Homo sapiens: one gene and its partners. The protein of the gene in region 1 interacts with the protein of each later gene in a pairwise test. Each region holds a gene or a part of one and is shown in the gene's direction. Other genes may lie near its edges. The genes, in order: AGR2, CNNM3, PRPF18 and RTL4.

Region 1 (7,025 bases):
TGAATACATGAACTTCAGCTCCCCGGGGCAATAAATACAGGTTGTTTGAAAACAAACCATTCCATTCCCTTTTGCTTCATTTATCTTTGCAGACCCATCTCTGACAGTTAGAGCCGATATCACTGGAAGATATTCAAATCGTCTCTATGCTTACGAACCTGCAGATACAGCTCTGTGTAAGTGTGACCTTCAATTCGGATGTTGCCCAAGAGTTGAACACCTCTATTGCTGTAGTGATGGGACTAGAGGCTGCATGGTGAGGTGAGAGAGAGCTAGGCTTAGGGACGCCTCGGACTCAGTTTGACCCTAACTAGCCTTGCATCTTCAGGCAAATCACACTCTTTCCATCTCAGGTTTGTTTGTTTTTAATCTCAATTGAAGATGAATTATTTAGATTAGGTATCTTTTTCTCTAGGAGGATTCTATGACCACATTACCTGATTTTCAGGTTTTCTGTTAGGTACACGAGCACACACTCCTTCTATCACAGAACTGAGTGTAATAATTGTAATAATCTGCATGTCTTAATTTTTTAAATAACAAAAGTGAAAGAATGTGCAGTCCAGCTTAAAATTAAATTCAGGTTCAGTTTAAAGATCAGTTTCAAAGATGATCCAAATGATTGCCAAGAAAATTACCTTCCCTATGGTTGCCATCAATGGAAGAGAGACAGAGAGAGAGAGAGACACTGACTTAAGGCAGATGAGGTACCTCAATGCAACGCTGTAGCTAGCTGTGACATCTGATTAGTCCTCTGGGAAGAAAAGTGGGTTTTATCCTAGGAACCAACTCTGATCAATTAGTAGTGGCTGCCTAGAACTGCACTGTCCAATATGTTAACCATTTGCCACATGTTGCTACTTAAGTTAAAGTTAGAAATTCATTCCTTCAGTCACACTAGCCATATTCCAAGTGCTCAATGCCCGGACACTGAACATTTCCATCATCACAGAAATTTCTATTGGCCAGTGCTGACTTAGAACGTCATGTTGGGAAGAGAAGTGAGGCCGTGTCTAGGAAGCAGGAGAGATCATCATGGTCCATTAGCAATGTTTCCAGTGTGTGCTGGACCAGGGGAAGCACATTCCAAGTACTGTCAGCCATTACTGAGATAATACCATACATTTTAATAAGACTAAGCTCTTAAAAGGCACGTGTCCTACACAAGTAATATCACAATCCCTTGTAGAACAGGCACTTAATAATTAAGATTTGTAGGAAGAGTGAATAAGCGGCTGTTCAATGCCTATCGAGTGGACATCTTATTTTTAGTAGATCACATACCTCATTTTGATGAATTGCTGTTGAAGAAACAGTGACCCAGAGTTTGGGCTCTGGAACAGTAGCTCCATTACTTGTTAGCTGTGTGACCTTGAGCAAGCTACTCAGCCTCTCTCTGCCTGTTTCATTATGTATATATAAAGTTCTAATCGTGTTTGTATGAGGATTAAAGAATTCATCTGCATAAAGCACTTGGTTTGCTATTATTTATATTTCCCCTACTTCTAAAACAATTTACACACACCTACTAATAGACATTTCTTTTAAACATGATTTAAATTTACTTCTAAATGAGCCAAAATTATCTTCTGCTGCTAGAGCTTATAAAAGGATTCTTTTGGAAGTGAGGGTTGGAGATGAAGGATCTGGGAAGGAATGACTACACTAGAAAACTAGATTGTCACAAAAGCCATTTCATATAATTTTTTTAAATTACAATAAGATTACCAACTATTCACCTCATGATAAAAAGCATCCTATCAGGCTGGGCACAGTGGCTCACGCCTGTAATCCCAGCACTTTGGGAGGCCGAGGTGTGTGGATCACTTGAGCTCAGGAGTTCGAGACCAGCCTGGCCAGCATACCAAAACCCCATCTCTCCCAAAAATACAAAAATTAGCTGGGCATGGTGGAGCACACCTCTAATCCCAGCTACTCAGGAGGCTAAGGCTGAAGAATCACTTGAACCCAGGAGGCAGAGGTTGCACTGAGTGGAGATTGCACCACTGCATGCCAGCCTGAGTGGGAGTGAGACCTTGTCTCAAAAAAAAAAGCATCCCATTAAATAATGAATTGAGCATCCAAGTTTGGGGTTTATTATATCGATATAACGCACGATGGTGTCTTGACTCTCCTGCTTTTATCCCCCATTAGTGCTTGACAACATGAAGAAAGCTCTCAAGTTGCTGAAGACTGAATTGTAAAGAAAAAAAATCTCCAAGCCCTTCTGTCTGTCAGGCCTTGAGACTTGAAACCAGAAGAAGTGTGAGAAGACTGGCTAGTGTGGAAGCATAGTGAACACACTGATTAGGTTATGGTTTAATGTTACAACAACTATTTTTTAAGAAAAACAAGTTTTAGAAATTTGGTTTCAAGTGTACATGTGTGAAAACAATATTGTATACTACCATAGTGAGCCATGATTTTCTAAAAAAAAAAATAAATGTTTTGGGGGTGTTCTGTTTTCTCCAACTTGGTCTTTCACAGTGGTTCGTTTACCAAATAGGATTAAACACACACAAAATGCTCAAGGAAGGGACAAGACAAAACCAAAACTAGTTCAAATGATGAAGACCAAAGACCAAGTTATCATCTCACCACACCACAGGTTCTCACTAGATGACTGTAAGTAGACACGAGCTTAATCAACAGAAGTATCAAGCCATGTGCTTTAGCATAAAAGAATATTTAGAAAAACATCCCAAGAAAATCACATCACTACCTAGAGTCAACTCTGGCCAGGAACTCTAAGGTACACACTTTCATTTAGTAATTAAATTTTAGTCAGATTTTGCCCAACCTAATGCTCTCAGGGAAAGCCTCTGGCAAGTAGCTTTCTCCTTCAGAGGTCTAATTTAGTAGAAAGGTCATCCAAAGAACATCTGCACTCCTGAACACACCCTGAAGAAATCCTGGGAATTGACCTTGTAATCGATTTGTCTGTCAAGGTCCTAAAGTACTGGAGTGAAATAAATTCAGCCAACATGTGACTAATTGGAAGAAGAGCAAAGGGTGGTGACGTGTTGATGAGGCAGATGGAGATCAGAGGTTACTAGGGTTTAGGAAACGTGAAAGGCTGTGGCATCAGGGTAGGGGAGCATTCTGCCTAACAGAAATTAGAATTGTGTGTTAATGTCTTCACTCTATACTTAATCTCACATTCATTAATATATGGAATTCCTCTACTGCCCAGCCCCTCCTGATTTCTTTGGCCCCTGGACTATGGTGCTGTATATAATGCTTTGCAGTATCTGTTGCTTGTCTTGATTAACTTTTTTGGATAAAACCTTTTTTGAACAGATCTTTTGGCATTATTAATTTTTCCAGGGATATATTTTCAATCTTTTCTATCTCTCCTAGTGACTACTATCATTAGTAGGTGTTGAGCATATACTGCTGATTTAATGACATACAAATCTTCAGCAAAAATATCACAGGTTAATCAGCTCCCTTCTCACAAGTAGATAACTTACATGTGCTGAAAAAGGTAAAACATTCCATTTAAAAAGATCTCTGAGGGATAACAAGAGGAAAAAGAGGTTTCCCTTCCATAAACAAATATTTTAAATGACAAGTTCTAAGTGATTCAAGTTTCTCCTATAGTATAGCAAAATATTTTTTCATTGGGCGGACGTGAAATAAGGTTAACTTCTTAAAATGTATTGAATGGCAAAATATCTTAACACATACAAATACTTTTTAAATATAAATAAATATTTAGGAAATCAAATGTTACAGCTGTAAGGAAAATAAGTCCCCCTTTTAAAAGCATTGAAGAAACACAAAGCATGAGTCATTAATTGACTTTGTCCCATCAGTCTCCTCCACCACTGAGAATTTATCCTAAGGAAATCATTCAACAGAAACAGTTCTGTCAAGATGCCAATGGTAACATTATTTAAACGTACCACAGAAAAGCAACCTCCCAAAAATATAATGGCCACATGGTATATTAAGACAAAATGCAGTTTTTTAATCCTGTCTAGGTGAGTAGTCATAAAAATTCTTCTCTCCCTCCCCCTCCCCCTCCCCCTCCCCCCCCCCCCCCTCTTTCCACGGTCTCCCTCTCCCTCTCCCTCTATTTCCACGGTCTCCCTCTCATGCCGAGCCGAAGCTGGACTGTGCTGCTGCCATCTCGGCTCACTGCAACCTCCCTGCCTGATTCTCCTGCCTCAGCCTGCCCAGTGCCTGCGATTGCAGGCGGGCGCCGCCAGGCCTGACGGGTTTTCGTATTTTTTTGGTGGAGATGGGGTTTCGCTGTGTTGGCCGGGCTGGTCTCCAGCTCCTAACCGCGAGTGATCCGCCAGCCTCGGCCTCCCGAGGTGCCGGGATTGCAGACGGAGTCTCGTTAACTCAGTGCTCAATGGTGCCCAGGCTGGAGTGCAGTGGTGTGATCTCGGCTACAACCTCCACCTCCCAGCCGCCTGCCTTGGCCCCCCAAAGTGCCGAGATTGCAGCCTCTGCCCGGCCGCTACCCCATCTGTGAAGTGAGGTGCGTCTCTGCCTGGCCGCCCATCGTCTGGGATGTGAGGAGCCCCTCTGCCTGGCTGCCCAGTCTGGAAAGTGAGGAGCGTCTCTGCCCGGCCGCCATCCCATCTAGGAAGTGAGGAGCGTCTCTGCCTGGCCGCCATCCCACCTAGGAAGTGAGGAGCGCCTCTTCCCGGCCACCATCCCATCTAGGAAGTGAGGAGCTTCTCTGCCCGGCTGCCCATCGTCTGAGATGTGGGGAGCGCCTCTGCCCCGCCGCCCCGTCTGGGAGGTGAGGAGCGTCTCTGCCCAGCCGCCCCGTCTGAGAAGTGAGGAGACCCTCCGCCTGGCAACCGCCCCATCTGAGAAGTGAGGAGCCCCTCCGCCCGGCTGCCACACCGTCTGGGAAGTGAGGAGCGTCTCCGCCCGGCAGCCGCCCCGTCCGGGAGGGAGGTGGGGGGTCAGCCCCCCACCCGGCCAGCCACCCCGTCCGGGAGGTGAGGGGCGCCTCTGCCCGGCCGCCCCTACTGGGAAGTGAGGAGCCCCTCTGCCCGGCCAGCCGCCCCGTCCGGAAGGGAGGTGGGGGAGTCAGCCCCCCGCCCGGCCAGCCGCCCCGTCCGGGAGGGAGGTGGGGGGGTCAGCCCCCCGCCCGGCCAGCCGCCCCGTCCTGGAGGGAGGTGGGGGGGTCAGCCCCCTGCCCGGCCAGCCGCCCCATCCGGGAGGTGAGGGGCGCCTCGGCCCGGCAGCCCCTACTGGGAAGTGAGGAGCCCCTCTGCCCGGCCAGCCGCCCCGTCCGGGAGGGAGGTGGGGGGGTCAGCCCCCCGCCCGGCCAGCGGCTCCGTCCGGGAGGGAGGTGGGGGGGGTCAGCCCCCCGCCAGGCGAGACGCCCCATCCGGGAGGGAGGTGGGGGGTCAGCCCCCTGCCCGGCTAGCTGCTCCGCCGGGAGGGAGGTGGGGGGCTCAGCCCCCTGCCCGGCCAGCCGCCCCATCCGGGAGGTGAGGGGCGCCTCTGCCCGGCCGCCCCTACTGGGAAGTGAGGAGCCCCTCTGCCCGGCCACCACCCCGTCTGGGAGGTGTACCCAACAGCTCATTGAGAACGGGCCATGATGACAATGGCGGTTTTGTGGAATAGAAAAGGGGGAAAGGTGGGGAAAAGATTGAGAAATCGGATGGTTGCTGTGTCTGTGTAGAAAGAAGTAGACATGGGAGACTTTTCATTTTGTTCTGTACTAAGAAAAATTCTTCTGCCTTGGGATCCTGTTGATCTATGACCTTACCCCCAACCCTGTGCTCTCTGAAACATGTGCTGTGTCCACTCAGGGTTAAATGGATTAAGGGCGGTGCAAGATGTGCTTTGTTAAACAGATGCTTGAAGGCAGCATGCTCGTTAAGAGTCATCACCATTCCCTAATCTCAAGTACCCAGGGACACACACACTCTGCCTAGGAAAACCAGAGACCTTTGTTCACTTGTTTATCTGCTGACCTTCCCTCCACTATTGTCCTATGACCCTGCCAAATCCCCCTCTGCGAGAAACACCCAAGAATGATCAATAAAAAAAAATAAATTAAAAAAAAAAAAAGACAAAATGCACTATGTTGTCATCCATAAAAATAATAAACATAATGGCAAAACAGAAAAGGCCTAAGTAAAAAAGAATTTAAGACCTTCTATGCTATAATTGCAACTACAGGAAATGTGTACATACAAGGTTAAAAACAGAATTGAGGTCAATCGTGGTGGCTCATGCCTGTAATCCCAGCACTTTGGGAGGCGTATCGCTTGAGCCCAGAAGTCCGAGACCAGCCTGGCCAACATGGAGAAACCCCGACTCTACTTGAAATACAAAAAAATTAGCCGGGCACAGTGGCCCATGCCTGTAATCCCAGCTACTCGGGAGGCTGGGGCATGAGAAACCAAGGGAGGCGGAAGTTGCAGTGAGCTGAGACCATACCACTGCAATCCACCCTGGGTGACAAAGAGAGGCTCTGTCTCCAAAAAAAAAAAAAAATAGAAGATACAAACATGGTTGTTCTAAACTCATTGAAATATTAGCAATGTCTGTTCTTTCTACCAAATCCCTCTTCTGTCATCTCACAATCTATCATTTGCATTTAAATAAATTTCAAGTGAAAGTATATCTTGACTACTTCTCTGACTACAGAGAAGTAGAAGAGTACTAGAAGACTGAAGAGTGCTATTTCAAACAGCCAAATAAAAATGTTAATAACATAGTGGGAATATAAAATGGTGCAGCCATTTTTGTTTTGTGGAAAACAATATGGTGGTCTCTCAAAAAATTAAATACAGAACTACCATCCAACCCAGTAATTCCACTCTTGGGTATATGCTTATGAACTAAAAGCAGGGAACAGATATTTATACACCCACGCTCATAGCATTATCCACAATAGCTAAAAGGTGGAAGCAACTCAAGTGTCCATCAATGGATGAATGAACAAACAAAATGTGACATATACATACAATGAAATATTATCCAATCTTGAAGAAAATTCATGGCTGGGCGCAGTGGCTCACGCCTGTAATCCCAGCATTTTG
Region 2 (2,615 bases), on another chromosome or scaffold:
TGGCCTAGTGGTGCTGAGGGCCCCTTTCTGCTTCTCTGCCCACCTGCTGAGTTGCCACTCGCAGTGTTGTCAGTTCCCGTGTTCTGAGAAGAGGTCATGCCTGGGAGGAAGGGATCGTCATGCTGCATCGAATCCTCTCTCCGCCGTGTGGCCCCCAGGAGAGTAGCTGCCTGTTGCACCTGCTCCACACCTCCCCACAGCCTCCCTGCAGGTGCTGTGTGGCCGTGATGTGCAGAGAGCAGTGAGGGAGGGTTCATGAACCAGGTGGATCCTCTTTAAAAAAAAAAAAGTTTTTGTTATATCTCTAGAACATTTCAAGTCTTTTCCTTTTTTTCTGTTCCTAGCTATGGGGTTTTAGAGAAGTGGGAACAGGAAGGCATTTGTCTTTTTCTTCTAGTTTACTACATTTTCCTTCCGTAGTTCTTCAGCTGTGTGGAAACGGGCATCACAAGGACATAGGATCATAGATTGGGTAGGGAGGGAGGAGGATTTCTGGAACTTTTCTCAAAGGAATTTGGACCCTTATAAATGGGACTGAAGGTCAAAACAACAGTGATATCCTTGCTTAGAAATTGTCCTCAAGGAATAAACTCTGAGAGCAAGCCCGGGTTGGAAACAGATGCTTTAAAATCCTCTCTCCAGAACAGTGGTTTTTTGTTTGTTTATTTGAGATGGAGTCTCACTCTGTCACCCAGGCTGGAGTGCAGTGGTGAGATCTTGGCTCACTGCAACCTCCACCTCCCAGGTTCAAGCCATTCTCCTGTCTCAGCCCCCTGAGTAGCTGGGATTACAGGTGCCCACCACCACACCCGGCTAATTTTTGTATTTTTAGTAGAGATGGGGTTTCACCATGTTGGCCAGGCTGATCTTGAACTCCTGACCTCAGGTGATCTGCCTGCCTTGGCCTCCCAAAGTGCTGGGATTATAGGTGTGAGCTAAGATCAGGGATTCTTAACCTTGGCTGCACACCAGAATCACCTGGCAAATTAAAAATACGTGGACCTGCCACCAGAGCTTGTGATTTAATCAGAGTCGGCATCAGAGTTTTCAATTTTTTATTTATTTATTATTATTATTATTATTATTATTATTATTGAGACAAGATCTTGCTCTGTCGCCCAGACTGGAGTGCAGTGGTGTGATCACGGCTTGCTGCAGCCTCGACCTCCCTGGTTCAGGCCATCCTGCCACCTCAGCCTCCTGAGTAGTAGGGACTACAGGTAGGCACCACCACACCCAGCTAATACTTTTAATTTTTTTTTGTAGAGATAGGGTCTCATTATGTTGCCTGGGGTAGTCTCGAACTCCTAGGCTCAAGCGATCCTCCTGCCTCGGCCTCCCAAAGTGTTGAGATTATAGGCGTGAGCCACCGTGCCCAGATTCACAGAAGTTTCATACACCTTTCACCCAGGTTCCCCTAATGTTAACAGCTTACATATAACCTTGGTACATTTATCAAAACTAAAGGTGCAATCATACTAATAGCTAGAGTTTATTTGGATTTTACCATTTTTCCCAATGTCCCTTTTCTGCTGCAGCAGCCAATCCAGGATGCCATACTGCACTTAGAGCTGTTGCTTTCTTTTTTCCTAACTTTATATTTTGAAATAATTTCAGATGATAGGAAGTTGTAAAGGTAAGGGCCCCACGCACCCTTCATCTAGTTTCCCTCCATGGTTACATCTTATATGGTTGTAATGCAGTATTCCAACAAAGACTCTGACACTGGTGCGATGTGGGTGGACAGTCCAAATCATTTGTCACATGTACATCTGTGTAACTACCACTGCAATCAGGATAAAGAAGTCCCATCCCCACAAGGATCTCCCTCCCCACCTTCCCTAACTCCTGGTAACCACTAATCGTTCATCTCTTCTTATTTTGTCATTTCAAGAATGTTGTATAAATGGGAGCATAGTGTGTAAGCATTCGGGATTGTCTTTTTTCACTCGGCGTCATTCTCGGGAGATCATCCAGGCATTGCATGTGTCAACAGTTTGCTCCTTTTTATTGCTGAGTGGTATTCCGTGGTGTATGCATTGGCCCCCTGAAGGACACCTGGGATGTTTCCAGTTTGGGGCTATTCCAAATAAAGCTGCTACGACTATTCATGTACAGGTTTCTGTGTCAGGATTAGTTTTCGAGGAGTGTAAATGCTTGGTCATAGGGTTGTTGCATGTTTCGTTTTTTAAACAATCAAACTTTTTTTTTTTTTTTTTGAGACGGAGTCTCACTCTTTTGCCCAGGCTGGAGTGCAGTGGCGCAGTCTCGGCTCACTGCAAGCTCTGCCTCCCGGGTTCATGCCATTCTCCTGCCTCAGCCTCCCCATAGCTGGGACTACAGGCGCCCGCCACCACGCCCGGCTAGTTTTTTGTATTTTTAGTAGAGACGGGGTTTCACCATGTTAGCCAGGATGGTCTCGATCTCCTGACTTCGTGATCTGCCCGCCTCAGCCTCCCAAAGTTCTGGGATTACAGGCGTGAGCCACCGCACCTGGCCACAAACTGTCAAACTCATGTCCTCACCGGCAACCTAGGATGATCAGTTTCCCTGAATCCTCCACAGCACTTAGTGGTGTCCACATGTTTTTACTTCAGCCGTTCTGACAGGTGTGT
Region 3 (9,731 bases), on another chromosome or scaffold:
AACACACAGAAAAAAAGACCTTCATAGAAACAGAATTATAGAGAACAGAAAAAAATTTCATTGAGAATGATAATTAATATCCTTAGAGGCCAAGCGTGGTGGCTCATGCCTGTAATCCCACCACTTTAGGAGGCTGAGGTGGGAGGGGTGCTTGAGACCGGGAGTTCTAGACCAGCCTGGGCAAAATAGATCCCTTCTCTACAAAAAATAAAAAATTTAGCTGGACGTGGTGGTGCATGCCTATTCAGGAGGCTGAGGTAGGAGGATTGCTTGAGCCCAGGAGTTTGAGGCTGCAGTGAGCTAGGATCGTGCCACTGCACTCCAGCCTGGGTGACAGACGGGTCTGAAAACAAAACAAACAAAAAAATTCTTAGGTAACGTTGTAGCCATGAAATAAGAACATTAGGCTATAAAAAAGTTTGAGAATCAAAATGAACTCTTAAAAATTAGCAAAAATTTAAATCAGCAAAAATTTAGTAATTACATTAGTGGGTTAGAAGATAAAGTTGAAATATGAAAAGCAGGAAAGGTAAGAAAATAAGAGTCAATCTATAACGTTTATAGCCATTACAACAGAAAAGGGAAGATAGGAAATAAAGAATTAATGTAAGAAAACGTCCCAGACCTGAAGGACGTGAGTTTGTAGAATGAAAAGAATTCACTTAATACAGCGCAAATGAATAGGAAGAGTTCACATCAAGGCACAAAAGAATGCATGTTGGAAGGCCAAAGCTAAAGAGAAGATTTCAAAGACTTCAGAGAAAAGGTCGCTTACAAAGGTGCAGGAATTAAAATACTGTCATACTTCTCACTGATAGCACTAGAAGGTAGAAGACAGTAGAGCAGTACCTTTGCAATAGCTAGGGAAATATTGTCCAACTCAGAATTCTCTTCCTTTCTGAACCATCAAGTGAAGGGTAAATATAGGCTAATGACATCTCCCATGCACACATTCTCTGTAGTCATTATCGTCATAGCTGACACTTAAGTAGTGCTTACTGTGCTTCCCTTCAGTACTTTACAGCCACAATATGAGATGGACACTCACATTTCCCTGTTTTGTAAGTGGGGAAGAGGCGTAGAGAAGTGAGTTCTCAAGGTCACATGGCTAGTCAGTGGTAGAATTGGGATTGGAATGTGGGCAGTCTTGACTCTACCTGAGGATGTCCTCCATCCAAAGAAAAAGATCCAAGAGCTGAGATCCACCACAGAGCAAGGCGAGAGGAATCCCCAGGCTGGAGCTGCAGGGATGTCATGCTCCAGGATGGTAGCAGTACAAGTGGGTCCAGGTTAGAGTAGATGGTTGAAGGACTCCAGGAAGAAATGGAAGAGCTTATATTCCCTGGCATGTCTGATCAGATCCTGAGTGATGTTTGGGCATGTGAGGGTAGTCTCATGTTGGAGAATGGATTAGAAAAACAAAACAAAAAGGGGAAAAAAACTTATGAGAGGTCATCATCATAATATGTTATGTGGGTTTGCTTTGAACGATATTTGTGTAGCCTTTATAAGGAAAACCCTGAATATTGATTTCACTAAAAATGTGGTTTGGGGAGGATGTGGGAGAAAGTGCTTTTGAGGCGTGTGCGTGCATATGTGGGGCCAGTGGACAGTGGTGTAAGAGTGAGATATCCTCTGCTTCATAGTAGGAAGTCAGGAGATATCACTAATATCTGGTGGAAAAACCAAGCACTGTCAGTATAGTATTTAGAAATGTGGCAATAAATGCCAGAGGAAACACTTAAAACGTTTGAAAAGGGTTGCCTGTGGAGAGCTGGAATTAGGATTTGGAAAGAGTGAGGTAGAGGACTGCTATTATTTGATACAAGAATCGTGTGATTTTTTTTTTTTCCCCTCAAACAGTGTACACAGAAAACCCGGAATTATCCTTGGCTTTTTTCTTCCTGTCACAACCCATATCCTATCCATGTCAAAGCTTGATGGTTCTATATTCAAAGTATGTCTGGAGCCCGATCCCTTCTCACCACCTTCCTTGCTGCCACTGGGTCCAGCCACCACCTCTCATCTGAATTATTCCAGTGTCTTCTCTCTGGTCCCTGAGTTTCTCTTATTGCTCCTCTCCAGTTTCTTAGCAGCATTCCCCAGACTGATCCAGTTCACATACAGTCAGATCGTGTTGCTCTGTTGTTCAGAACCCTGCAGGGGCTTCCTAGTTCACAGAGTCCAAGCCAAAGTCCTTCAGGTTGCCCCACACGTCCACTTACCCCACTTGCCTGCTTTATTTTCTCCAAAGCACTTAGCATCGTTGAAAATTTTTTTTTATGAATTTATTTTGTTTCTTGCCTGTCTTCCCTTACCACAATTCGATCTCAGGAGGGTGGGATTTTTTCTGGCTTCTTCGCTACTGTATTTCCAGAGCCTAGAACAGTATGTATAGTAGGCACTGAATAAACATTTGTTAGATAAGGGTATTGCCTTTATATAAATAAAAAGCCAATTAAAAATACCACAAGTTTTTAAGCCATTTGCCATAAGCTAAGCTAAGCAGCTCATTGTTTTACTGGCTTAAGCATCCATAAGCAGTTTGAAACTGAAATCCTGAGGGGTCTAATTGAAAAGATTTGTTTCCATCTGGAAAATAACGATATTCTGTCCTGAGATTACACACCTATCTCTGCCATGCACTCTCAAATCTTTTTTACAAAAATGTATCATACCGCTCTGTGGTAACTACTTATGACTAAAACAATTGAGTTTCACAACCCTTGGCAGCTAAGATTTCAGGGAGAACACTAGTATATGTTTTTAAATCATAGAATCTGCTTAGTGAGTATAAATAGGCATCACACACGTCTTCTGTAAGGAGCACACACCTAAGATTCCAATTCTTCTGACATGGGGAAAACCACCTCCAAGGCAAACCATCAGTTTGCCTTCCGCTTGCGCATAACAATTCTTGCCATGCTCTGCTGCTGAGTGAAGCTATTTGTATTTCATCAGGGTGTTCTCTTGCCTGACTTTGCCCCTCTTCTCACCTATTCCTTCAGGAACCTTAAGATGCCAAATTAGTGCTATCATCTATATTTCCATGGCTACCGATCAAAGTTCTGCATACACATGATTAGAATTCACAGCAGGATAAGCTGGACTATGTGATGGAATGGTCTTTATCCCAAAGCAAATACCTGATTACACAGGGAACAACAACAACAAAAAGGAGCCAAGTGAATGACGTGTGCAAAAGCCCTTCTTGTGAATCAGTTGAAAGATAACCTCCCTCCACACCCCTAATTCCTAAATCTCATAATGTGGGCAATCCTTGAATCCACCAAGGACTTTAAATACTTCACAGTCTTGTTTCTCTGATGTGGAATCTGTTAGATTATGGCTCCATTCATAGAAGTATGTCATTTGTCCCTTAATATCCTCAGGGATTGGTTCCAGGACCCTGCAGATACCAAAATCTGGATGCTCAAGTCCCTGATAGAAAATGACATAGTATTTGCATATAATCTATGCACATCCTCCTGTATACTTTAAATCATCTCTAGATTACTTACAATACCCAACACAATGTAAATGCTATTTAAATAGTTATTATATGATATTTATTTGTATTATTTTTAATTCTTTTTTTGTTGCCGTTTTTTTCTGAATATTTTTTAACCAGGGTTGGTTGAATCCATGGACACATAACCCATGGATACTGACTGTGATTAATATTTGTGTTGTCTGCTTACTATGGGACCAATGAGATTTTGCAGGGATTTTTGTGTTGTTTGTTTGTTTTGGTGATTTTATTGAGCTTAACAGGTGTTAAGTTACGTAGATTTCAGTAAGACCTTTGGCAAAGTCTTTCCTTGTAAACAAGGAAATGTGTGTGTTAATGAATTGCACAGTGAATAGGATTCATTGCTGGTTACAAACTCTTCCCAAGATCGTTTTGGAGAGAGCTCAATCGTGGTGTGTCTCAGGTCTCTGCCCTTGCCCTGGCCTGTTTGCGCACGGTATTGAGTATTTGGATAATGACTTAGAGGACATGTTTACCGAGTGGTGGATGAGAAAGCTAAGAAGAATAACTAAAGCTAAATGTCGACCAAGGATTCTGAAAGATCACAGACTGAAGGATGAGTTGAAAGAGACAGGATGAAATTGAATAGTGATAGTTGTTTTCATCAGCTTAAAAAATCTAACTATAAAGTTATACACTGGAGAACTGGCCAAACTGCTGTAGAGACAAAAGGCACTTGAATTTTGTGAGATCGGTGGGAATTAGGTGTGTGTATTGTAGTTGTCTAAAAACAGCTAAGGGTCTTGGTTACAGTTGCCAAGATACAGAACAAAAGTAGTGCAGTGACTACTTCTAGTGAATTCTGCAAGAATGGCCAGGTCACGCTTGGAATGTTGTACTCAGTTTTTACTGACATATTAAAGTGGTTTTATTGTGTAATATTTGGTACATACAAAAGAATACATGTAAAACACAAGTTATAAAGTAAGTAATAAAATGAATGTCTAAAAGCCTTACTCCCAGTTTAAGAACTAGAACATTCTGAAAACCATTGAAACAATATTGTCCTTCCATACTCCAGAAGTAACCATTACCTTGCACTTAAGTTTGTCATTTCCTTTCTTTTTGAAAAACCGTTCCACCATGTTATATGTGCATTTCTAAGTAATACATTTTTTACTTGTTTTTGAATTTTATGAAAAGGATGTCACTGAAGGTAGTAACACTTCATGCCACTTGCTTTTTACTTTCGACATTGCTTCTAAGATTCATATACATCGGCCTTTCCCAACCAGAGCCCCTCATCTTGACCACAGAACACAGAAAATAATTGGAGTGTATTTTCTCAGTCCTCCAAACATGATACATAAATAGTCTCCTAAATTTTAGATGCATAAGGGAGAAGTTATCTCGTTACATACAATGGATGCCTTAGGCTGGGCATTTGGAGCTTAATTCTCTATTGGAACCTGGTTGAGACTGGCCGAATTGTTACATGTAGCTAGAGTTAATTCATTTTTACTGCTGTAAGATATCCCATTTGTGAGCACACTAAAGTTTTTTTCATATGTCCTCCTATGGATGGAAATTTGGGTTGTTACCAGTTTTTTGGTTTTGTTATTGTGAACAGTTCTGTGATGAACATTCTTGTGTGGACCTGCAGGTGCACAAGAAAAATTTCTCTAGGCATACATCTGAGTGAATTTGCTTGGGTCTGCTGCATTTTATGGGGACATTGACAAACTGATAACGAGTTCAGAGGAAGGCAGTTAAGAATAATTTAACCATGTCATAACCAACCTTTGTTTTCCTTATTTTCTTAGGGATTGAAGAGGTTAATGACCATTTGCCAGAAACACTTTCCTACAGACCCATCCAAATGTGTGGAGTACAATGCACTGTGAGATCTGTGTATGGTGTGTTAATAACAATAAGAAACTTAGGGAAGCAGGCTGTGGACTTCTGGAATTACCAACAGGAATGAGGAAAGAAGAAAACTGGAGTTTCCAGTCTCTGAGTTCTACCTGATGTAACTCTTGATTGGTTTTAAGAACTTTGTTGGCCTTCATTTCATATCTGACTGCAAGCTGATTTTTCTTTCTTGCTTTCATTTTAATTAGTCCAAAATTAAGTTTTAAAGATTTTTCCTCACAATTTAAATCCATAGACAACAGAAGGGGGTTTAAAATGACCTTTTTTTCAGTTGACCCGAAAGTTGTGGTTAGATGATTAAAAAGAAACATTTGAGGATGGACTTAATTATTTCAGTAAAATATTATAATTTGCCTATTGTCTTTTATGTAATATTTATATAAAATATTTTTATATATTTCAAAAACATGGGACCATTGAATGAAACTTTATAGTCCTTAAATGTTGCTGAACTTTTGCTGTCTTGCAATAGAATTTGAATGTAAATATTATTACTGGTATAACTCAAATGTTATTTTTCTTGCATTTCAAAGCTTGCTTTTATCTTCCAAGAAGTGTAAATTTTAGTATTTGTCATCTCTCAGGACAGATACAATTAATAGGAAATAGAAGTTTGAAGAAACAGAGATGGCACATCATAGCAAACTAAGTTCAAAACAGAATAACCCCAGTGCATCAAGGTTAAGGTGGGACAGTGGTTTGTGATGCCAGGGAGAGTGGGGAAATTGTGATGATGCTGGTAGACCTGGGCAGACTGTGTTCCCAGCCACACCCGCCAACAGAGGAGGAAGGTGCTGGTACTGATGTCCCCACCCGAGAGTCTGTCCTGGCCTTGGTTTTCCACAGTGAGGGCTCGTTCTAATGTTGCACAATGTCATACTCAGATATCACTGTGACCTGTTACTATGCTTTAGAACCCGAGAGGCCTCTGTTCACATGGCAGCATGTGTGAGTGGATGCTCCCGGAGCAGGTGGAGTGGTGGCGCTGGATAGCGGTAAGAGCGGGGGCTCCAAAGGCAGAACTTCCAGCTTCACATCTCAGCTCTGCACCTGCTCGCTGTATGACTTTAGCAAGCAACTGGATCTTTCTAAGCGTCAGCTTCGTTGTCTTAAATGGTAGTTGGTAATAATAGTCCATGCTTCGTAGCATCACTTTTGTGTTCAAGCAGAATGCTGAGCACACTGGCAAATAATAAGAGCTCGTAAATATTAGTTGTTGTGTCACTGTTGTCATTAGAGGGAAGCCAGAGTCCCTTTCAGGAGCCCTGTGTTTAGGGGCAGTGTGTCCTCACAAAACAATAACAGTAATAATGATGGTGTTAGCAGCAACAGCAGTAATCATGGAAACGTTGATTAAGCATTTACTGTATCTGAACCCTGCGGCTGTTCCTGCTTTCAGCCACTTCTGCATTGAGAAGGGCCGGGGATGTGGTGGAAGCTAGATGTCACCAAGTAGGGGGATGTAGATTCACAGCGGTCTATTCTGGTTCCTCTTGGGAGGTTCAAACCTTGGGGAGGTTCAAAAGCCAGTTTTGGCCACTTGTGCTCTTCTGCTGTGCCTAGACAGGATCGTTTCTGATGGTTATATGCATGGTGGTGGCTGAGGTCCGCTGTCTGGAATTGAATTGGGGTTCCTTGCCTCCCACTCCCTCATTTGGAAACCTTTTCTTGTTATTAAATCAGTTAGAGGGGGCCAGGCGCGGTGGCTCACGCCTGTAATCCCAGCACTTTGGGAGGCCGAGGTGGGCAGATCACGAGGTCAGGAGGTAGAGACCATTCTGGCTAACACTGTGAAACCCTGTCTCTACTAAAAATACAAAAAATTAGCCGGGCATGGTGGCGGGTGCCTGTAGTCCCAGCTACTCGGGAGGCTGAGGCAGGAGAATGGCGTGAACCCAGGAGGCAGAGCTTGCAGTGAGCCGAGATCGTGCCACTGCACTCCAGCCTGGGCAACAGAGTGAGACTCTGTCCCCTCCCCCCCGCAAAAAAAAATCAGTTAGAGCTTAGTGTAACTTACCAGCGCAAGTGAGAGACAGACTTTCGTAAGATATGACAGCAATCTAGATTTTTTATATAGGACCTATTTATAAATATTGTTGAATGAGTACTCTCCGAGTTACTTTTTCTGTATTCACCATCAGGTCACACAGTAGAGTAGTTCATTAATTTCTTGTTGTCTTCTGTTTTGCAGTTAGTTAATGTTCCATATAAAGAAACTGTCATGTGACACCAGTACCTCCTAAAATTGGTCAGTGTGGTAGATGGTTTAGAGAAAAAAGGAACCTGTTCCACAGGGCTGTGACCATTCGAGGGAAGCACATTCAAAGATGTAGATCCCCTCAGAGAAGTTTTCCATTTCCCTGAAGTTAAAGATCTTCAAATGACTGCAAATAACATGAGGATATATAGAAAAATGCCCTTCCCCAATTTCCAAATCGTGAAAATTTGGCTCAGCAGGTAAGTATTTCTGTTTGTAGTTGTTTATAAAACAGTGAAGACATACCTTTTAAAATCAATCACAGTCCTTAGATAAATTCCTCCCATTCTTCCTCCCCAGACTCCTATCCATTAAGAGTTGTGTCTCTGAATTCAAATTTCATAAAACACTGAGTTCCCTTCAGAAGTAAATAGTGCATTTCCTAGGAGTGTCATTGCCAACTGCAAAGACAGAGCAGTATTTTTCAGTGTTGCAGCATAGAGCCTGCAACAATCTGGAGGTTGTGGCTGTGATTTCAGTCTTTGGGGGACAATTAGGAAAGTAAAGCTAAGGCCAAAGATAATTGACATGTGGAAAGAGACAAAGGACAGTCCGAATCTCGTAGGAGGAAGGGAGCGGTCCTGAGAGACCAGAGCTAGGCAGGCAGCTGTCGCTAAGAATGGAACTTAGTGATCTGCTGTGGGCCCAGAGCGCTCAGTGAGAACTCAGAGGACTAGGAAACAGGCTTGATAGCAGTATGACTTTTAATGCTAAGCTCTGCCTTCTGGTGATATCCTGACCTACTCCAGCACTTCAGAGCACTCTAGGGTTTGATCTCAGTAAATAACTTGGAAATGCAACCACCTTTTTGTTGGAAAGAAAGTAATAATGTATCCGGAAAGAAAGCAGGTTGGAAAACACCAGTGTTTCCAAATCTTTGATAGATTTGAATTTGGGGATTCATATCATTGGCTGCTTTTCAGCCACATGTGCTCACCTTTGTACCCCCGCCTACCCTGCCCCACCCCATGAGGTTAATGCTTCACACAGAAGGATGGTAGAACGAAGTGGGGCAGTTTCAATGAAAGGGAGCATTAAGCTGAGCTCTGCCTCTTTCCTTTGTCTGCATGTCTGGTAAACACAACTTAATGGATTGTGCCTCCTCCTTCCCCCAGTATACTCCCATGAAGCCCCTAAAGAATAAGTTTATCCCATAGCAATCTATGGTATGGTGTCATATTGGGAGTCTTGAGCTGAAAAGTACTTTCTCACGGTATATTGACGCAAGAGCTTCCAGCTGTCCAGAGCGCAAGAGCCAGCGCCAGTCCCCAGAGGGTTGCTATGGGAACACTGTTATGGCAACTGGTTTTCATCACAGACTCTGCAGTTCCATTGGCTGAACTATAACCACACGCTAGTCCTTTAATGGTTAACAGTAACTTTAAAATCATTTGAAATTTAAAAATAATTTCTGGTGGTGTGGAATAGCTAGGGAGGGCAGTGTGGCCAGCCGCGCAGCTATGGTGTGAGCTGACCCCATTCAGAATATTGAAAAACATGCTCATTTAAAAAAAGAATGTATTTTTACGTTGATCAGAACAATTTATCATGAAAGCATTGATTATTTATTTTTCCCCCATTGTAAACTTTATACAACTTGCTTAAATGAATCCTTGTGTTGCCTCTGCTGGTCACTCTCACTAGGCCACTTCCTTCTGTTGAGTCTCTTCTTCCCTCTCTGTAAGCACCAACTTCCTCAACTTTTTCTCACAGTGTTCAAGCTTAACACATAATTTTACCAATGAGAGCAGCTGAGAAGTTTCGAGCTGCCTTTTGGTGATCTCAGACTCTTTCACTGAGCTTCAGGCCGGGACAGTCAAGAGTCACTCCTGCAATCCGCTGTCCTGGCCTTCCTTAACTCACAGTTTTACAACTTGCCAAAACTAAATTGCCTTTGCGGTCAACTGCTTTTCCTTTCAGACTTAGGAGATGTTAGGAACCATGAGCGTTGCAGTCTGTGCAGTCTGCGCCTGCCTTTCTAAGTTTGGCCATCCTGGGAAGTAGAAGTGTAAAAGCTGTAGAATTTGAAACTTTTGGACCACAACTCAAAACAAGTGTATGGAGACCCAG
Region 4 (10,547 bases), on another chromosome or scaffold:
TGGAAAAAGTTTATATTTTATTTTTTAATTGATAAGCCACATGAATTGTCCCTACATGCTCAGTAGGTAATTGTTTATTTTCAAATATCTTTCAGATGCTTTTTGGATAAGCTCTAGCCCGGTGCTTCTCAAATTTTAGTATAAAAATGAATCACTGGGGATCTTCATAAAATGCAGATTCTTATTCAGTCGGTCTGGGGAAGGATTTGAGATTCTACATTTATAGATAGCTCCCAGGGGATGGTGGCAATCCTGGTGTGGGGACTACACTTGGAGTAGCAAGGCTCTAGCTCACTACATCCTAGCCTTTTCCCTATCCTTGTGATATTCTCACTCAAATGTGGAGGTTTTTCAGATCATCCTTCTGGGCTGTAGTAAACATGTTTGCATTGCTCTATTTTCTCAGATCCTAAAATAAATTAGGGTGGGATTAATGAAAATTAGGCAATAAGGCTAAAGAATGGGGGAAGGTAAGAATATCCGTCTGCAAACCTTTCCTTCTTCTTGTACTCTGCTCTAAAAACCACCTGCCTTATCTTTTCTATTTTCTTTGTTTTAATTTTTCGGAAAGAGTGTGACTGTATGTGCATGTTTGTGTGTGTGTGCATGTGTGTGTATTTGCACATGCATTTGGGGGGCTGATTCTGAGACTGAGTATACTAAACCAGAGCCATAGTCACTGGATTCTGCTAGCTTCCATTCCCCAAAACTACTATGGTGCAGAACAGACTGGGATTTCTAGATGCCTTGCTGTTGGTGGTGTGAGCCAGATCAGACACATAAATGTGAGCAGCTAAATTTTTGTCATGTTTAATTCTGCCTTCCATCTGAATACGCTAGCTATAGACACATATAATGTTTTCTTAGCTAGCAAGATAGGATTGTGTGTGTGAGTGTGTGTGTGTTAGGGGGAGGTGGTGGTCAAGAAGGTAAGTCACAAAGATATGACAGCAGCATATAATATAAACACGTATACATACATATGGAATGGAAGTAGAGGGCTGTGATCTTGGTAAACTTGACTTTAGTTACCTCTCGATTTCTTGGGAAGATCTCCACAGAACTTCAGAAAATGTATTTCGTATCAGCAAACAGTACTGGGTTGTGGTTTTGCCACTGTTGTTAGCTAGTAGTCTGTTTTAGGCAGGTCATTTCTACTCTCTAGACTTCAATTTCTCTATAGGTGAAATGAGAGGATTGACCCCTCCAAGATCCCCGCTTGTTTCTTATCGTTATTTTTTCTTTCCTTTTGCTAAGGCAAAAACCTGGGGCAATTGCATTGGCCACCACCATCCAAGGGCCAACTCCAGAATTGGTGACAGAAAACCAAACCTAAGAAACTTGCAAAGTTCCCTTCACCCAGCAAATTGCAATTTTTCTTAGCCCCTATCAGCTTTTATAATTTCTTTAAATCATCTGTGCTCACTCAGTTGAGCATGATGTACATGTTTGTTTATAAGACCACAGTTGAGTCATTCAGGAATCATTCCTTGCTGGCAGTATGGCTCTGCTGGTCTCACTGGACAAAGTTTGAGGGGCCCATCAACAGAAGAAAAGCTTCGTGAGTTTTAGAAAGGATGACACTGTGGATATGTCAGCTACTAGGCTCTGGACATGATGGCTGGCCTTAGCTTATCCCTCATCTGTGGGATGAGGAATAACTTCTGCCTAGAATGAGGCTTTATTTCTGTCTATAGGCTGCAAACTTTGTCATACCTTTCCCTGCAAACCTGGCAAATGACTGGGCCAGATTAGGCCAGTGGCACCTTGTGGCACAGAGTACTTTGGGGAGAGAGATTCTGCGCCTTATATTCTTCATCAGTTAGCAGGAGGCATCTGAACAGCTTAGTATACTAAGGTGAAAACAGGAACCTTTGGCAGAAGTAAAGCAGGCAGAAATGCTTCAATCTACCACCTTCAGTGATGGAGCCATGGCAAAAAATAAATTAGAATATTCGAAAACAGGCTACAGGAAAGCATCATGACACATTTGAAATATCCATTCAATAACTAAGCACCTGAATGGCTTGCAGATTGGAATTTAATATTGTAAGGAGAGAAATGAGACAGCAACACTGAGAATGTACTCCAAGGTTCCCAATTCCCTGGTACTATGGAATTCTATCATTGTTTACACAGTGTTTGCAAGTCAAATACAGGCAATTTTAAGATGCTTCACATATGAGTTGATTTCTGGATTAATTCCATTCCCAGTCAAAGCAAACACCTGGATAGTTTTCTTTCTGTTTGTTTCAAAACATCTTCGGTTCTCTCATATTCCTCTCATCTTCCTCCCTTCTGCATCTCTAATTTCCTGGCCTAGTCTTCTCTAAGTACTGTGGTTCTGCGTGCCATTCCGGTTTTAGTTGTTAGCTATAGAAAGAACAGAATCTTAGGATTATAGCTCTTGTGGCTGGGAAGGATGGCAGATATCTGGTTCAGGTCTCCATGTTGAGATGTACACTGAAGCCAGGTGAATTAGTATCAGTGAAGCCGGGGGCTACATTGGTTCTGAATCCCTGAACCTGCTCACATGCTTATCCCCTGGGTAACCATCAGGACTTACCTCAACAGCCAGATACTCACATCACCAAGAACAGAGCAAAACCTACACTGTAGGCTTCATTCGTGCTGATATTTTGAGTTTTTCCCCAATTATGATGCTGCCAGTTCTTTCCTACCTGTCTGCAACCCGGTCTTTAGTATATCTATTTGAAAGTGTAATTTTAACCTAAGAAAATACTTACTATGGTTGCTTTAAAAAGTAACAGAATGGGCACCTTTTCAGATCCTACTTGAGTAATCCTCATTCTGCTCTCTCTCAGCAGTGAACATTAGAAAGAATTGCCTGATGCAACATAAACAGTTTCACTTAATGCAGAATCCGTTTCTCTTATTTGCTGAGTTGGAAAGAGGCAATTCATTGCATTTTGGTAACATAGTAATAAATAGAAAGTTTAACAGACGAACCTGGGTGCTTTGGAAGCACAAATTCACCTCCTGCTCCCCTCTGTTACAAAAGCAGAGCCAAGATTGTATGGGGTTGATTGAGGTCCTTGAAAAACTACATACACACACACACACACACACACACACACACACACACACACACACAGATTTTCTCTCTCTCCCTATGTATATTGTGAAAGTTTATGAAAACAGCATCTTCCAGGGACCAAAATGTGGATTTTAGGTGACATTCAATTCTTCCTTCGACCTCACAGAGAGAGCTTCAGAGACTCCTTGACCCTGTGGGTTTCTTTTATCCCAGACTATATATTTGCTTTGAAACGAACTTCGTACTATGTAAATATATTAACATGCCTTTTGATTTAGAATAAGCAGATTTTAAAGACATGATGAAAGGTACCATGTGACATCATTTATATCTCAGTTTTTAAAGAGTTTATGGGAAAGGAGACATAATATAAATCATCAATAAAACATCAAAAAACCTATGACACCAACAATAGACAATTATGAATGCTGATATATAAATCTGTCATTCTTGTTAAATGCCATGAAGATAAATATATGGCAATAGAAAAGTGGGTCTGGGTGTGCCATGTCAATGTTGTAATCATTTCACATTTGAAGCCAAGGGTTAACATGCACAATCTCTAAAAAGAGCATTATCAATTAGTCTATGTCTCTCCTACTCTTATAATAAACTCGGGTAAAGTTCAGAGGTTCTATCTTTCAGGCTGGTTTCCCCGCTTCAGGCTTTTCCTGAGGGAGTAATAACCTTGCTAAACACTTAACCATCACCAGGTACATGACTGCGATCCAAAGAGCCCAGGTTGTAATAGGGAAAAAGCCCTTCTAGTCTCATTCTAAGAGACCATGGAGAAAGATCAGCATCTGTGAATTCAGCTCAGTACCTGCATATGTGGGACATGATCATGACCATTTGTCCGAGTCGATGTGTGTCTAGGGAGGGAGGGAGGTGTCCACTTTGAAGCAGAGATCTGACTGATGCCCCTCCATTTGCATTTCTTGGTTCCTTTAAGGAAGACAGGCAAACAAATCTGGCCATTTCTTAAGTTTGAAGGATACAAGACAAAGAAGGTAAATGGGGACCCTGGTTCCTGAACCTTCATGATCCGGCTCCTGGCTCTCTATTTCTGAAGGTGGCTTTTGACGAAGGGCAGGTATCCTTGGTCCGAGGGCCACACTAATCGATTTTAAGGAGGCCTGGGAGCAGGTTCCCCACGGATCTTAAAATCTACCCAAGAATGGAGCAAATCATTGTCCAGGGATAGGACAAAGCTGTGGTTCAGGAAAATATTCCCAGTGAAAGGATGTTTTTGGTCATCGCAGGCAGCACCTTGTCCTATCAACCCTGGAGCTTCTCCCCATTGCATTTCCTCTTCCAAAACAATCTGTTGCTGGCCTCCCTCTGCTCCCTACCACCCTGAGCCCACAGCCAGCCAGTCAATGCTTCTCCGCCTACAGCAGCCCAGCATCTTCATTCAACCCGCACTTCGCTGCCCCTTGCCCCTCAGCAGCACTCAGGCAGTGAAATGGACCGCACCGGCCGCCTGTAGACTTACCCTGAGCCAAGTGGTTTTTTCGGATAAAATCTGTGTCGTCTGGATGTCCACCGGCCAGGATGCGTGGTGCGGCGCCTTGCCGGACTCCTCTTTTGCGGCGCGAAACAGCAGCCGACTGGGACAGCCCGGGGCCTCTAGGCTGATGGGTGGGTGGGCGGATGAGCACAGGGAAAGGGGCGGGGTGTAAAGACGAGCGCAAGTACTGGCTCCTACCTTGGCTTCCCCTTTGGATGCTCAGTTATTGCCAAACTTGCCTGTAACAGATCGGCCCTCCTCACCTTTCACCTTCGCCAGTGCCCTGAAACTCTTTGCTCTACCAATGTCCCTACCCTGTTCTCCCAGCTCTCTAACCCAACCTGAGCCCCTTCAAGCGCACCCACTCCCTTCACGCAGCCAGTCACACACAATAAGAGCTAGGGAAGAAACTGACACGGGGAAACTGACAGGGGTAGCTGACACTGTAGTGTGAAGGAGAGGGAGAAGGAGGGAGGAAGGAAGGGATGGAGAGAGAGGGGAGAGAGAGAGAAAAAAAGAGAGAGAGCCGCATTCACACTCTTACACGCACACTCAAGCTCCAGCTGTTAGGTAGCGGCTGGCGGGAGCGCTGGCTACCCCTCCAAAACCCTTTTCTACACTAGAGGTTTCTGTCCCCTTCTGCTGCCGTTTCTGGAATATGCTATACAGAGAAGGGGAGAGAAAAGCAAAGAGGGGTGGGGAGGGGAAAATCAAGGAGGCACGCTCCCTTTATCCTCCCCACCCCTGTCTCCAAAAATGTCCAACCCTGAGCTCTTCCTTTTCCCTTCTTTCTGCGCCCGGCTTCCCTCTGCTCCTGTTCTTTATTCCTCCCTTTGGGGTGGCTGCGAGCTGCGGACAACCCGTCGTGGTTGTGATGTGGGGTGTGTGTGTGTGTGTGTGTGTGTGAGAGAGAGAGAGAGAGAGAGAGAGAGAGAGAGAGAAAGAGAGAGAGAGAGAGAGAGAGAGATTGAGACAACCGTGGTAGGCAAAAGCACCCCTCACCTCCCCCAGCCCCCGGGCCGAAGCCACTCTCAATCTCCTGGCGGCGGGGCGGGGCGGGGGAGGCGGGGAGGCGAGAGGGAAAGAGGGAGGACGGGGCAGGCGGCAGGGGCAGCAGCTCCTGCCTTCTTTGCAGCTCCGCGGCCAGGGGTGGAAGGAAGCCGCAGCCGCAGCCCCAAGTCAACCCCCGCTGCCCCGTCCCACCGTCTCATCTCTCCCCCCTCGGTACGGAATTTTCTGTCTCGTTTGTTTGCTTCCCCAGACCTCCCCCTCCCCTGGGTGGTGGCAGAGACGGGAGGGGAGGTGGGAGGCTAAGCGCGGGTGCGGGTAGAGGGGACAGGAGTCCCTCGGAGCATATGGCTAGCAGAGTCTCTCTTTGCCCCTTGGCCTGAATATCCCCTGCTTTGGGCAGTGACCTTTGCCCACCCCCGTCAGCCTGGGCTCTGGGCCGGTGGTGGCGAGGCTGCTCCGGCGACCATAGGTCATTCAGGAGGAAGGGGAGTTGAACCTGGGGGAGTAAGGGCGGCGGGCGGCTGGTAGGACAGGGAGACAGCGGAGCGCTGAGTCGCCAGGGACTGACCTGGGGTCCTATGGGGCAGGCTTGGATCCCTGATAGATCTAGATTAATCTAGTTGGAGCTACCTAATTCTCCCATCCGTGCCCCTCTCACCCATAGGGTCGATCTCCCAAGATCCAGCCTAGATTGATACAGGGAGGGAAAGTGATATTGTAGGATGGGGGCGGGGGGCTAGGTTGCTTAGTGGTATCTGTTGTGGAGGGAGAGGGGCGGTGTCACCGGACACTTGGGCCACTCTTTGATCTTTACGCCTTCCTTTCACATGAAGCACCTCTCCACTTCTTTCACCTTATAGCCTGGCGCTCAGAATGTCCACCCTCTTGAGCCCAACTGGAAGGGGCTAAATAGCCCCACCCCCACCACAAGCCTGAGACTTCTACCTGCAACCTGCAGGCGCATAGGTCCACTAGCTGGCAGCATTTCATGGCCTGGCCGCACAGCCCCAAATATTGGCTTTGTCTTTTATCTCCCTTCCTAGCGCTCTCAGGAAAGGGGCATGTGAGTCTCTGCCTTTCTGGACGCCGGGCTGGTACCTGAAAACCTTTCCCTACCCATTCTCAGAACAATCCCTAGCTCTGAGAAAACTCCACTGTACTTCCTGTTGCTCTTTAACCCCCTCTGCACGCCCTGGGAGCCTAAGTGTAAGCTCCCGAAAATGCCAGAATCATCTCCCTTGCCTAAATGGCCGAGTGTTTTCATTGCGGAGCCTGTGAAGCTGGTAGTAGCTATGTTTAGTGGAAGCCCTAAGCACTCTCCTCCTAGCCTACCTTGGAAAAGTCGCTCGGGGCACCAAGCAAGACAAATTTTCCCCTTGTCGTTAGTCCTCCTAGTCCCGAGGCAGTCCAATATTCTGGAGAGTATTTAGCTTTTGTATGGGAGCAAGGTATTGGAGAAAAGAAAATTATTACCCTGGGGGATGAAGAGTTTGTGTCTGGGGGGAAGGGAGTTGGGGAGGAAGAAGTGAGGGTGGAGCTTCCACCTCTTAACAACTTAAATACTTCAGGAAGTGTTTCTAAAGATTGGCCAAGAGGGTCGCTGAAAAAAAAAAATCACTTGATTCTTTGCCTTTCATTCAAAGGCAGTTTTACTGTGAACCAGCAAACTAATATACAGTCTCCCAAACAAGGGAGGTCTATGTTGTGATTAAGCCGTCTTCCCTTTGGCATGAGGGTGAGTAGAATATGTGACCGTGGATAAAACTTTGGGGGCATTTCCCTTTTTTTAGCCAAACTGCAGTCCAGCTGAGACTTCCACTCCAAGCCCAGATGCAACCAGAAGCAGTGCTCAGGGAGAGCAAAAGCCTTATTCTTGTGAGCTGTTTCCTTCAAAGGCCCTATATCCAATGCACTTGTCTTTAACATATGAGGACTGTGTGTGCTTCTGAAATTTGGAGCTTTCCCAGTGGACTGTGGATAAGGTTAAAATTTCTTTCTCTGCTCCTGCCCTATCCTGTTTCTGCCCTATCCTTCTAACCTCTTCAGATCAAGGATATATAAAGAAAAATCCTTTCAAAAGTTAAAAGCACCATACAAATGCCAGGCATTACTATACGAATTCCAAAACAAACTTAGCAGAGTATCTCCTAGTGCAATTAGAAAGCTGACTTAGGCAGGGACCCAAGCTTTGTCTAGGTTGCTTGTCAGCCTTGGGGCTGGGTGGCTCATCTTCTCTGTCAATAGGGACATATTCTGGTTTTCCACTTGGTGGCTGAGTGTGTATGTCTCCCAGGGTAGTTTGCACCTAGAGGCTACATCTGCAAAAGTGGCTCAAAGCCAAAAATGGAAGCCACTATCTGACTAATTTAAGCCCAGAACTACCTAGCTTCTAGACTAGGTTTACTTACATGGCCTGGCCTATTCAAATACCATGACAGGTATGACTGTTAAAATGTAATTGAGACATACTCTTTTCTCCTCTCTTCTTACAGCCTTGACCATAGTGGTAAATGGTATATGTAGACCAGAGTTTAATGTAACATCGTAGGTGAAGAGAAACTGTTATGAGGAATCCAGAGAGTGGGGTTTTCCCAGTCATTAAGCAGGGTTTCTCAACCTCGATGCTATTGATATTTTAGGCCAGATGATTCCTTTTGTTGGGGGGCTGCCCTGTGCATTGTAGAATGTTTAGCAGCATCCTTGGCCTCTGTCTGTTAGATTCCAGTAGGAACCCACACCCCATTTGTGACAACCAAAAATGCGTCCAGGCATGGCCAAATGTCCACTGGGGAGCAAAATTATCCCCTCACCATATAGAATGAGTGCCATTTAAGGTAATGTCACATTTCAAAGACCATATTTTAACCTTAATTCTACCCACATGGCATGTCCAGACTTTGCATTGAACAGAGTCTCAGAAAATAATGAATATTTTGTGAGGAAACGACATAAAAAGGAACCCTCACAAATTAGCTAAGTTTTGACAAATGGTGGAATTCATTGTTATCAACAATGCCATCTTCTGGTTACCATCAAATTCTTGTCAAGCACACACTATGAGTAGGGTATTGATTATAGCAAAGATCTGTAAGACATAATCCCAGCCTTCAGTATGCTAAGAAACTATTGACCTTTCTTTCCCCAAGGGGAAAGGGTTACTGATTTTCATAGATAACCAATTTCTGGATTGAATCCAACCTGGCTTTTTCCCTCTTCTATTTCCTATTTGTCCCCAAACAGTGGCTTATTGTTTGAGGTTCTGCCTTATAGAGATTGCATTTTGTTTTGCTAATTAGCATAGTCCTACAACAATTTTTTGTGACTTCTCAGCGTGTGGCATTTGTGTCATAACACTGTATCCAGCATAAAAATGACTACAACATCACAAAGGCTGTAACAAATTGAGCAATTTGAAAGCAGGTTTTTGTTTTCAAGGAAAGTTTCTAACTACTTGCATGCTAGAGAAATACTCAACAATGGCAAAAGCAAAAGAAATGGAATGTAAAAAGAGGTGATTCTTAAAATACTGTGGAGTGTTGAAAAAATATCTCAGTGTGATTATGGGTTTTAACACTCAGCACTATCTCTACCTCAGGAAGTCAAACAACACTAATGCAAGTTGTAGGATCTTGATCAGGAATTCAGCAAAGGAAAATGCAGGAGAAAGCATGGAATATCTGTTCAAATCAGTTGAGTAAGCTCCTGCCTTAGAAAATAAGTTTCCGGTGAGCCAGGCAGGACTGCATCAGTGTTACTTGCTTTGGATAATTCTTAGCCCAATACCACGTATATATATAGCAACATGTCACTTATAAAGACTAATGCAGGAACCAACAATTAGCACATTCAAACTTTACACATTCATACATTATGATGCTATTGCCAAGACTAATTATTTATTTAAATAAAAGTTTTGCCTGAATTGGGACGACGAATGACTGTAATTGAAAAATATGTTTCATTTTTCAAGAGAACATTTAAACTGTTATATCAGAATGGGATCCCTGTAATCAAGGGATAAAGCCTTACATTAATTAATGATTAATCTTAATAAAAGATGTGTAAACAGAGCTTCACTTCATGGATTAGCTAAGGACTTTGCTGTCCTCACCATTAATAGCAATGCAAATGGGGCCAGCTCTGAGCAAATTTGTAAAGTGTAATTGCAGAATCATAGGACATTGCAGAATATTGGACCATTGAGAAGCACCTTGCCTGAGGTTAGAGGATAGTGACAGAGAAGGCTCCAATTGTGTCTTGCTGGTCTGTGACTGACTCTGTGGGACCTCAGGAAGAGTAGGTTTAGTCTTTACTTTGCCTGCCCCCTCCCCAGCTTATTAAAAACTATCCCTCATGGAATGATATAATCTGTCCTAATCACTATACTAATGTGTTCCCTCTCCCAGGAGTAGATTGGTCTTCAGCTTTTTTTTTTTTTTTTTTCCAATTGTGGGGAAAAGGGCTCTATCTCTTTAATGAAAAGAGTTCAAGCATGAGGGAACATGTATGTCCTTGGGATGAGGACTTCCTGAAGCTCCTAAAAATCACCCCAACTGCAGATCATGTTTTATAAAATCTATGGAGGCTGGGAGTAGGGCCAAGAAATTTCAGCATTTCTCTCCGGAAAGTTTGTCATTGTGAAGGAGTAGTTGGTGAGCCATGCTTTATTCTTGATCAAAGACACAAGTCCTTATGGACAGAGTAATGAGAGGCGAGCTATGGGAGGTTCCTACAGAGTAGGTGGTGGTAAAGGGTGTAGGCTTTGGAGTCAGACCTGGGTTTGAATTCCAGATTCATGTTTCTTAGCTATGGAAATTAGGTTACATGGACTTTGGTTTGCTTATCTGTAAGCTGGGGACAATGACTCACAGTGTCGTTTAGTGGATTTAATTGGATAATGCATAAGCCTAGCACAGAGCCTAATATATAGCAGTAGCTCACTAACTGCTAATTTCCTTTCTTCTCCCT

Evidence for each region.
Region 2: the proteins of AGR2 (region 1) and CNNM3 interact in binary tests that used the Homo sapiens proteins (3 or more experiments, as listed by UniProt).
Region 3: the proteins of AGR2 (region 1) and PRPF18 interact in binary tests that used the Homo sapiens proteins (3 or more experiments, as listed by UniProt).
Region 4: the proteins of AGR2 (region 1) and RTL4 interact in binary tests that used the Homo sapiens proteins (3 or more experiments, as listed by UniProt).

Annotation. Positions count from the first base shown.
Region 1 is NC_000007.14:16,788,087-16,795,111, reverse strand, and holds the end of AGR2 (anterior gradient protein 2 homolog precursor), read left to right. Parts: intron 1-92; coding exon 93-176; intron 177-2,154; coding exon 2,155-2,204; 3' UTR 2,205-3,301; downstream 3,302-7,025. UniProt on the Homo sapiens protein: Required for MUC2 post-transcriptional synthesis and secretion. May play a role in the production of mucus by intestinal cells. Proto-oncogene that may play a role in cell migration, cell differentiation and cell growth. Promotes cell adhesion.
Region 2 is NC_000002.12:96,833,268-96,835,882, forward strand, and holds the end of CNNM3 (metal transporter CNNM3 isoform 1 precursor), read left to right. Parts: 3' UTR 1-2,115; downstream 2,116-2,615. UniProt on the Homo sapiens protein: Probable metal transporter.
Region 3 is NC_000010.11:13,624,965-13,634,695, forward strand, and holds the end of PRPF18 (pre-mRNA-splicing factor 18), read left to right. Parts: intron 1-5,295; coding exon 5,296-5,376; 3' UTR 5,377-5,895; downstream 5,896-9,731.
Region 4 is NC_000023.11:112,077,326-112,087,872, forward strand, and holds the start of RTL4 (retrotransposon Gag-like protein 4), read left to right. Parts: upstream 1-5,690; 5' UTR 5,691-5,792; intron 5,793-10,547. UniProt on the Homo sapiens protein: Involved in cognitive function in the brain, possibly via the noradrenergic system.